Regions from separate parts of the Homo sapiens genome. Here region 1 is linked to region 2. The links come from fine-mapping of genetic effects on plasma protein levels. A gene starts in region 2. The other region holds a variant in brackets. All regions are shown on one strand. Distances are from middle to middle.

Region 1 (2,880 bases), 98 kb before region 2:
CTTGAGATTTTCCTCATCTGAGCGCTCCATACTCTCCCATAGGCGTTGGGTGGCAACGCCAGGCTCCTCGCTGCTCCGCCCAGAGGCCCCTGCAAGGCCTCGTGAGGGCCTCCGGCCTGCCAGTGCCAATGCTGCGGTGGCCTCCCCAATGCTGGGAAGCTCCCCAGCCTCAGGTCCCCCATCAGCCCGGCTGTATTCGGCACACAGGTTCAGGATGGTCTCCAGGCGCTGGCGTTCCTGGGGAGGATGGACAGAGCAGGACATGAAGGGGAGGAAGCTGAGCCCTGGTGGGGATAGAGCCAGGTTCAGTATCCTGTCAGGAGGGAGAGCAGGGTTACAGGGGGCTAGGACATCAGTGTCAAGTCAGGAGAGGCCTGACCCCAAGACCTAGGGGAGGCAGAGGGAAACAAGGTGCCCCAGAAGTGGGCAGGAAGAACGAGGCTGTTGTGCCACATGCCCACATGGCATAACAGCCTGGTTCTTCCTGCCCACTTCTGGGACAGCCCCTTCCATCTTCCTGTTCCTTTCTTTTTTCAGTCTACCCCAGGACACACAGGAACACACCAAATGGACCCACAGTAACACACTAAACACATACAGAAACACACTGTTAAGCAGACTACAGACCACAATGAGACACAGATAAACTCAGTTGCTCGTCCTGACGCAGGTACACACAGATCTACAGACACAAGGACACATACTGACACACCAGCACTGATGCACAGGCACACAAGGATACAACATGTGCCCTGGCCCTGCATTAATAGGCAAGTACAGAGACACCAGCCCTGACATGCACAAATGCACACTGATGCACACTCACAGATAAACACAGTCTAGCATACAGACAGGTGGGCATGTATGCAGACAGACAGTGCTGGAAAACAGACCCATGAGCCCACAGGGACCAGACACCCAACCACAGACATACATGGAGAAGAGGTAGACCAAGGACACGGCCCTCTTTGTCCCCACCTCAGCTCCAAGTTACCCTCAGGCAGCCCTTGGCTGTTTATCAGCAGGATGGGCTGCTGCCAGTCCTTGAATGCCCAGGCCCATGAGTGAGTACTCCCATGGCCCTACCACTTCATCCACCCCTCTCCACATACACACCCACCCAGATACAGTCACCTCTCAGGGGCCTAGGAGGTAAAGGAGGGATGACACAATCACATTCCTGGTCTTTGTTGCCTT[T/C]TCCCGCAGGCCTACCTATAGGCCTGAAGCCTGGTTTGTGAGGCTTCCATGGCTCTCTAGGGTCCCTAGACCTCCTCAAGTGTCTCTCATCACTTACAGTTTGGCCATGAACCCAAACCGCAGGAAGTGGAGAGAAGGCTGGAGAGGTGTTCTCATACACTTACCCAGCTTCCCTCCTGTTGCTTGCCCAGTTCCATGGCAAAAAAAAAAAAAAAAAACCGGAACAGAGCCTCGGCACCTGGGAGGCTGGGCCAGTGCCTCCACCCCTGCCCCAGGACCCAGATAAGCAGCCTGGTTGAGGTGGGAGGGGCAGGGCGGGCAGCCTCCAAGACTTAAAGTGGCAGGTGAGGCAGGTCAGGACTAGTGGTAAGATGTGTGCTTATGTGTGGGAATGGGGGTGGGAAAACTGATGGAGGAGTTGGGGGAGGCTGTGCCTGCCACTCTGCCTGTGCCAGGCTCACTGCCCCCTCTCCAGGATGAGACCCCAGCTTAGAATGGCCATGCATTCCCGTCTAGACCAATGCAAAAACAGTGAAGAGAAGATGCAGCAAAGGAAAAGATGGGATCCGCCTCATCTCACCCCCATCCAACACAAACACACAATCCTATACCCTCATCCAAAACTGTCCCAACCTCTTCCAAAAGCATCTCCAGATGCTTCAGTTCTGGTTCTCATCAGTTCTGGTTCTCTTCCTCAAACCAATCCCAGGGTTCCTGCCCACCTTCCAAAGAACCCTGTTCTGCTCGTAAGGGACAGAGGGCAGAATCCATTCTTCTGTACATGGGCTCGACTGTGTACACACCAGCCAGAGCCCCTTAAGCTCCCTGAGCTATCTGGGGAATCCTGGCCCCCACCCAGCTCAGATGCCATCTCCAGGACAGCTGCCTAGAGCCACACCCAGCCCCTGCATGCACCCACGTGCATGCACATGGACACACACAGTCACAATTACACAGGCTGGCTAACGGTCAGGCCAGGGTTGCCTATCCTGCTCTGTCCCTCTACCCTGCCACCTGCACTCCTAGATGATACTGCCTGGGCCAGGATGAGCAGCTCCCACCCACTTGTAGAGGCCAAAGACAAGCAAAAAAGAAGGACAAGGTACTTTTCTAAAGAACAAGTCTCAGAAAGAGTCAGACAGGGGACCTGGGTTCCAATTCTAGCTCTGCCAGAACTTGCTGTGTGACCTTGGACAAAGCCATTCCCCTCTCTGAGCTTCAGCCTACTCATGATCACCAACTGCTTCTCAAACTGGGAGGTTCGAGGTCTTACCATACCTGTGGTATGTTTTCCTAGAGCTTCACTGTGCTCAGGTAAACAATGTGAAATTTAATTTAACATTAAAACAAATGCTATGTTGAATAAATGCAAAATTAGCAAGAATTTAAAATAAAGTCTTAGAGATTTCAAAGGAATTTCTTCTTCACGGCACCAGAACCATAAGATATTGATCACTAAAGTGTATCCTGGAGGTGGGGAACCTTGAGAAGCCGAAGCCCTGTTTGAGGGCCTCTCCTGCTCTGCCAGCTGGCCTGCTCGAGCCCTGGCAGAGACTCTGCCATGGACAGTGGCAAGCCTCCCTGGCACCCGCTCACCAGCCTCTCCATCTCCTGCTCCCGGAGCCGCTCTTGGCGCTGTCGCCGGTGGTACTCCAGGAGGTCGTCCTCATTGTCACTGATCTC
Region 2 (5,398 bases):
AGGAGGAGGGTGGCAGGCCCCTTCCCCAGTACCTTGGCTGGTGAGGAGGCCGCCGGGCTCCGGGTCCAGAAGCTCTGGCCGGCTGTTGTTCTGAGCCATCTGCCGGTCTGCTGGTTTCACTGCTGGTTGACAAAGAGGGCAGTGTTCAGGACGAGGAGTGTGCCTGATGAGGCCTCGCCCCTCCCAAGCACCAAGTTCTTTTTCTCAGAAGCACTTCTGGAGATTAAGCAGGGGCAAAGAGCAGGGCCCTAGATATACCTCTGGAATCTGGAGTGAGGTCATTGAGCTGAAGGTTGGACGGGAGGGACATGTTCTCCCGTGGCAGGCGCACGTTGTTGAGTTTTAGGTTGTTGGAGTCACTACAGGGAGGACAAAGTTCGGGATGGATATGAGTCCCGGCACAGGCACTCATGGCTGCCTCTACCAGAAACCCCAGGCTCCCTCCTGTCCCCATCCTGCATTTCGGTTAGGCTTGTCCACCCAGCCCAAGGAAGAGTTACCTTGATATCAGAGATGGGTGCCGGGAGGGGCCTGTGGAGAAAGAAACCATGTCCCTAATTCTCAGTGTGCCCTCCCACGCTGGGCTGTCCTACCCTTTCAGACCCAGGACCCTCAGGCAAGGGGTCTCTCAAATGCCCAGGCCTGGCCCTGGGGCCAGAGACTGGGTTCCCAGTGCTTGACCCTGCTACCTGGGATGCATGTCACCGTACCCATGGCCACCCCCTGGAAGTGCTCTGCCACCGTCAGAGATGACTGGTTCTGCCCAGCTGCACTTGCTGTCTTGGCTGCTGCTCAGCCTGACCTCATCCACACTGCCCCCAGTGTCCCTGGCCTACCTTTGGTTTTCTTCTCTTTTCTGCAGACCAGGCAGGCCACCAAGGTGCTGAACCCCACGAGGGTGCCCAGTGCAAGCCCAGCAGCCACAACAATGCCCAGCAGTGGCACTTCCACCCGGGTAGCCAGAAGCCCTGGAGGATGTCCTCTGTGTCAGGTCCCAAGTGGGTAGTGCCCCAGCCCCAACATGCCATAGGTACTACTCTGCCCTCCTTGCCCAGGGTGGCTGGGGACAGTTCATCCACAAGACCCAACCACAGGGCAACAAGTATTCCCATTTCTGTATGGGGACGGGACCCCTGAGCCCACCTGAAGCTTTGCAGGGCCGCTTGCTGGCCATGCTCACCTGGGGCTGGAAGCGACGCACTGGTGACACCCACGTCATTGGTGGCCACCACCGAGAGGTTGTGTGCCAGGCTGCGGAGCTGCAGCTGCACCGTGTGGTTGGTGAGCCAGGGGTAGTTCTGCGCATCCAGCACCAGGAAGTCAGAGGTGTTGACAGTCACTGGCCCATCCTGGTCGATCCAGGTGACATTGGCCGGCGGGTTGGCACGCACCAGGGCAAACAGGACAACCAGGAGGCCTGGGCCCTGAGCTTCCTGGTACTTGGCGCCGACTTGGGCAATCTCTGGCTTGACTGGTACAAAGCAGAGGCCAATATGCTCTCACCACAGCCCCTCATACTTCTAGCCCTTTCTTCCCAAACCCAGATGGGAGCCAGGGGCCTGGGCCTCTCCTCAGAGGGGATGCTGAGGAACAGGATGGCTGGGTCTGCCAGAGAGGCAGCATTTCGGAGTGATTATGAGTGTAAATACTAGAGCCAAATGCCCAGATGTGAATCCTGGCTCTGCTTCTTACCAGCGGGATCATCACCCTGGGCAGATTGCTTACCTCTTTCTGCCTCAGTTTTCTTATTTGTAAAATGGTGACGACAATAGTAATGACCTCATGGGGTTACTCAGAGGATCAAATGAGTTCATATTTGCAAAGTGCTTAAGTGTCTGCTAAATGTCCTGCGGACCACCTGCCTGGTGGGTGCTGGGGGTCCCTGGGCAAAGAACCTATCTCCCTGCCCACCTCAGGGCCACTCACATTGCACATTAAGGATGACAGAGGCGTTGGCTGATCGGCCACTTCTGGGGTCCTGCAGAGAGCAGTTGAGCTCATGCTGGGCCCGATGGGCAGTGACAGTGAAGGTGCTGGTGCCTCCAGAGAAGGCCTCCCCTCCCACGCTCAGCAGTCTTGAGGTGCTGGCCTCCTGCAGCTGTCCATCCAGATACCAGGCCAATCTGGGGGTGCCAGGCCCCCCTGCCACCCGGCAGGTGAAGGCGTGGCGTTCATTCTCCCGAAGTGCCCGCTCAGCCCAGGTCTGACCATCTATTTGTGGCTCCAACTCCCCCCAACCTGGAACACAGCAGGAGGCCTCTGGGAAGGGCTCAGGCACGGTTGGTACTGTGCTGTGACCAGGAATTGGCCCAGTGAGAAGAGCAGCAGGCCAAAGGAAAGGGCACCTGAGTCCTCTCACCAGGGACTGGCTGGTTGGACCTAGGGTAGGTGGGTGAAGGGGACAGGGACTCCAGGGCTTGGGGCCTGGAGTGGGTACCCAAACAGAAGTGCAGACAGGGGAGAGAGGGGGCTTTGGAACCCAGAAGGACTTGGTCAACGACTGAACAGGGGTGTACCTGAGCTCAGAAGGGCTGGCAGGAGCAGCAGTGTGTGCCGGAGGGCGGCTGGGCCTGGAGGCAGCGCCATGGTGGCCCGGGCCTAGGCCCTAGGCTGCTGAGAGAAGGGGGCGGGCCTGTCAGCCAGGTGACAGCAGGCAGGCCTAGCAATTGCTCCAGGAATTTACTCTCCAGAAACAAAAAGAACCATGTACGGAAACGCAAATGTAGACCAGCCCCCAGTGGCGAAGGCACGGACACGAACGGCAAAGCCCAAAGGCACAGACCCACCCAGCAGACACATGGACATCCTGCAGGCGCAGAAGCGAGCACTGACTCCAGGCTACAATACAAAGAGGCACACACCCGCAGATACGCAGAAGCAACGAGCATCCGTGCAACCACACCTTGCACACACGCACACTCACACACATACTCCACGCGCCCCTCCCCCAAAGGGATCGCCTTTCTCCTAATCCTATTCTCTCTCCTGCCCTGTTCCCATCCTCTCTCCTGCCCTGTTCTCTCTCCCATCCCTCGCCCTACGCCCCCTTTCCTGATGTTGGTGGCTCCGGTGGATGTCGGCGGAAGAGGAGAGGGTCGGAGGGTGGGGTCGCCGAGCATCCCGCCCCCGCCCCCCGCCACCGGGGCGGCTCACCTGGCTCCCTCCCCGAGCGCCGCCGGAGCAACTGCTCAGGTCTGATGAGCACCGCAGTCCGCTGCAGGGGCGGGGGCTGCGCCAGGCGGGGCCAATCGATGCCCGACCACGGGCCCGAGGGGCCCTTACCCGGCAGGTGGGCGGCCGCGGCTCACCACCCCCCGGCTGGTCCCCAGCCCGCGCCGAGTACCCCCGAGTGCCCTTCTCTCCGGGCGCGGGCAGGACGCAGGAGCAGGCGGAGTCGGTGAGGCCCGACGGCTTTATTGGTTCAGGGCCCAGTCCCGTCCCCTCGCCCGCGGACGCCCGGGTCCGCGGCGCTCAGCGGCTGTCACGGGGGCGGCGCAGCTGCCCCATCATGTCGGCCAGCATGCGGTTGCACAGCGCGGCGTAGGGGTTGAGCAGCACCAGCTGGCGCCGCGCGAAGGGGCTGCCCAGCCGTGCCGCCCTCTCGAAGTCCCTGCGGGCGTCGTCGTCTCGGCCCTGCAGCCGCGCCAGGAGTCCGCGCTGCACAAAGCTCTGGCGGGCGGCGCGGCCCCGGCCGCCGCTCAGCTCCACCGCGCGTTCCAGATCCTCCAGGGCGCCTGCGGGACCGACGAGACGGGCGGGGCGGGGGTCAGCGGAGGCCAGGGCGGCCTTGCCCGAGCCCCAGCCCACCTGCGGCCGCGCGGATCACCGTGGTTCTTGCGGCTCCCGGGCGTGGCCATTTACAACCCGCCTCGCACCTGCTAGAGGTACGGATCGTTATTCCCATTACACAGATGAAGACTGTGGAAGAGTTAAGCTCTACAGCCAAGCCACTTAGTGGCAGAGCTGGGACTGAAGTCCAGGTCTCGCCTTGTTCCTATTATTTTCCACCGCTAATACACGAAAACATGAACGTTGCAGGATTCTGAATGGCCACTATGTTTATGAGTCTGGCCCACTGCCCGGGCAAGTAGCAGCCAATTTATTCCACACCTGTTATTAAGCATCCACTATGTGCCAGGTGACTGACTCTGAATGTCAGGGTTCAAAAAATAATATTAACCGCACAATCATTTCTTACAAGTACAATCAAGACAGTTTCTCATTGTTTTCCTTTTGAGGGCCGTTTTCTCTTTTCCATTGCTTTCTTTAGAACACCTTCTCTCTCCCCTGTATCCTGGACTGATTGCCTTTCATCATTCTTTGGTTATCTCCATGTATCTAATTTCCTTGGTCCTGGAGCCAGAGCTGGCCTGCACCATTTTTATTGTTATTATTCTCATAAAATACTTGGGTTGGGCCTCAGAACTCTGAACTCAGAACTTCAGGCAGCCAGCCACCTTCTTAAAGTCCACCAGGCTGGCTTCTTTCGGGCTCTGCTTCAATTCACTCATGTTCTCTAGTCCCCCAAAGAGCCTGAGCCTCCGGAGAAGCGCTCAGAATGCAGTACTCCTTGGTTTCCCTCGGAGGAGCTGGTCTGGAGGAATCTCCAGTTGGAATCACCACTGCATCTCTCTGGGGTTTTGGTCTGCAGGCTGTCTCCAGTGATCTGGGGCAGATAAGCCTGGATAAGGGGCTCCTGGGAGGTTCCCATTGTTCCTGGAGTGGACTCAAAACTCCCTAGCCTGGCATTGCTGGTTCTGGGAGCACCTGTGTCACCACTGCTCCTAACAGTCAAGTAGTACTAGGTTTCCGTGGTTTATACCTTCACATTAGCCTCATCTTTGGTCCCCAGCATGGTCCCATTGTCTTCACTTAATTAGAATAACCTGAATGCAGCAGGAGTTTTGGACCTCTACAGACTGTACCTTCTCCACCCACCAACTAACTCCCACTCATCCTTCAAAACTCGCCCTTCAGGAACAGGTCCCACGCTGACCCCTCTCGAACTTGTTTTGCTGGTCTCAGAATTATGTGTCTGCCCTGCCTCCTGGACTGGGAGCTTTTCGAGGAGCAGTATCATGTGGGGATTAAGAGCACACACTCGAGCCCTACCACCTGGTTGACATCCCAGCTCTGCTGCTGCCTGACTGTATGATAGTGGGCAAGTTACTTAGCCTCTTCATGCTTCAGTTTCTTCATCTATAAACTGGGGATAACAATAGTACATACTTTTTAGGGTTGTTGTGAGGATTGATTTACTAGTTTGTATGTAAAGTGATTAATGCCTGGTACATAGTGACTGCTATATAAATGTTGGTGATCCATATACCTTTTATCTCAGTGTCCTCAGCACCAGCCTACTGCCACATAGTAGGCTCTCATTAACTGTTCCTTAATC

Direction of the effects. Alleles are on the strand shown, and positions count from the first base shown. The strength of an association depends on the size of the effect and on how common the allele is.
As copies of C replace T in region 1, the plasma level of the protein whose gene starts at base 3,196 in region 2 goes up (strong association).

Evidence for each region. PIP is the chance, under the fine-mapping model, that this variant and not a neighbour inherited with it causes the effect. Protein levels are from antibody-based Olink assays in UK Biobank. Linkage for the fine-mapping came from a reference panel and not from the study's own genotypes, which makes the PIPs less certain.
Region 1: its variant is fine-mapped to the plasma level of the TMEM25 protein (UK Biobank, PIP above 0.99).

Annotation. Positions count from the first base shown.
Region 1 is chr11:118,628,564-118,631,443 of GRCh38, reverse strand. It overlaps PHLDB1 (pleckstrin homology like domain family B member 1), which reads right to left. Exons shown (of 23, transcript NM_001144758.3): 6 at 2,794-2,880; 7 at 1-237. Among named protein-coding and RNA genes, the nearest start is that of MIR6716, 14 kb to the left of the region's middle. RefSeq lists enhancers at 1-108, 109-617. The variant T/C (reference allele first, on the strand shown) is at 1,198.
Region 2 is chr11:118,528,990-118,534,387 of GRCh38, reverse strand. It overlaps TMEM25 (transmembrane protein 25), which reads right to left and starts at 3,196. Exons shown (of 9, transcript NM_032780.4): 1 at 3,154-3,196; 2 at 2,517-2,613; 3 at 1,927-2,238; 4 at 1,181-1,471; 5 at 837-968; 6 at 501-531; 7 at 259-359; 8 at 33-122. The coding sequence starts at 2,586. It overlaps TTC36 (tetratricopeptide repeat domain 36), which reads right to left. Exons shown (of 3, transcript NM_001080441.4): 3 at 3,395-3,734. The coding sequence ends at 3,472. TTC36-AS1 (TTC36 and KMT2A antisense RNA 1) reads left to right here and starts at 3,613. Exons shown (of 3, transcript NR_120574.1): 1 at 3,613-3,884. RefSeq lists silencers at 2,949-3,048, 3,079-3,518, 3,639-3,918, 4,440-4,734.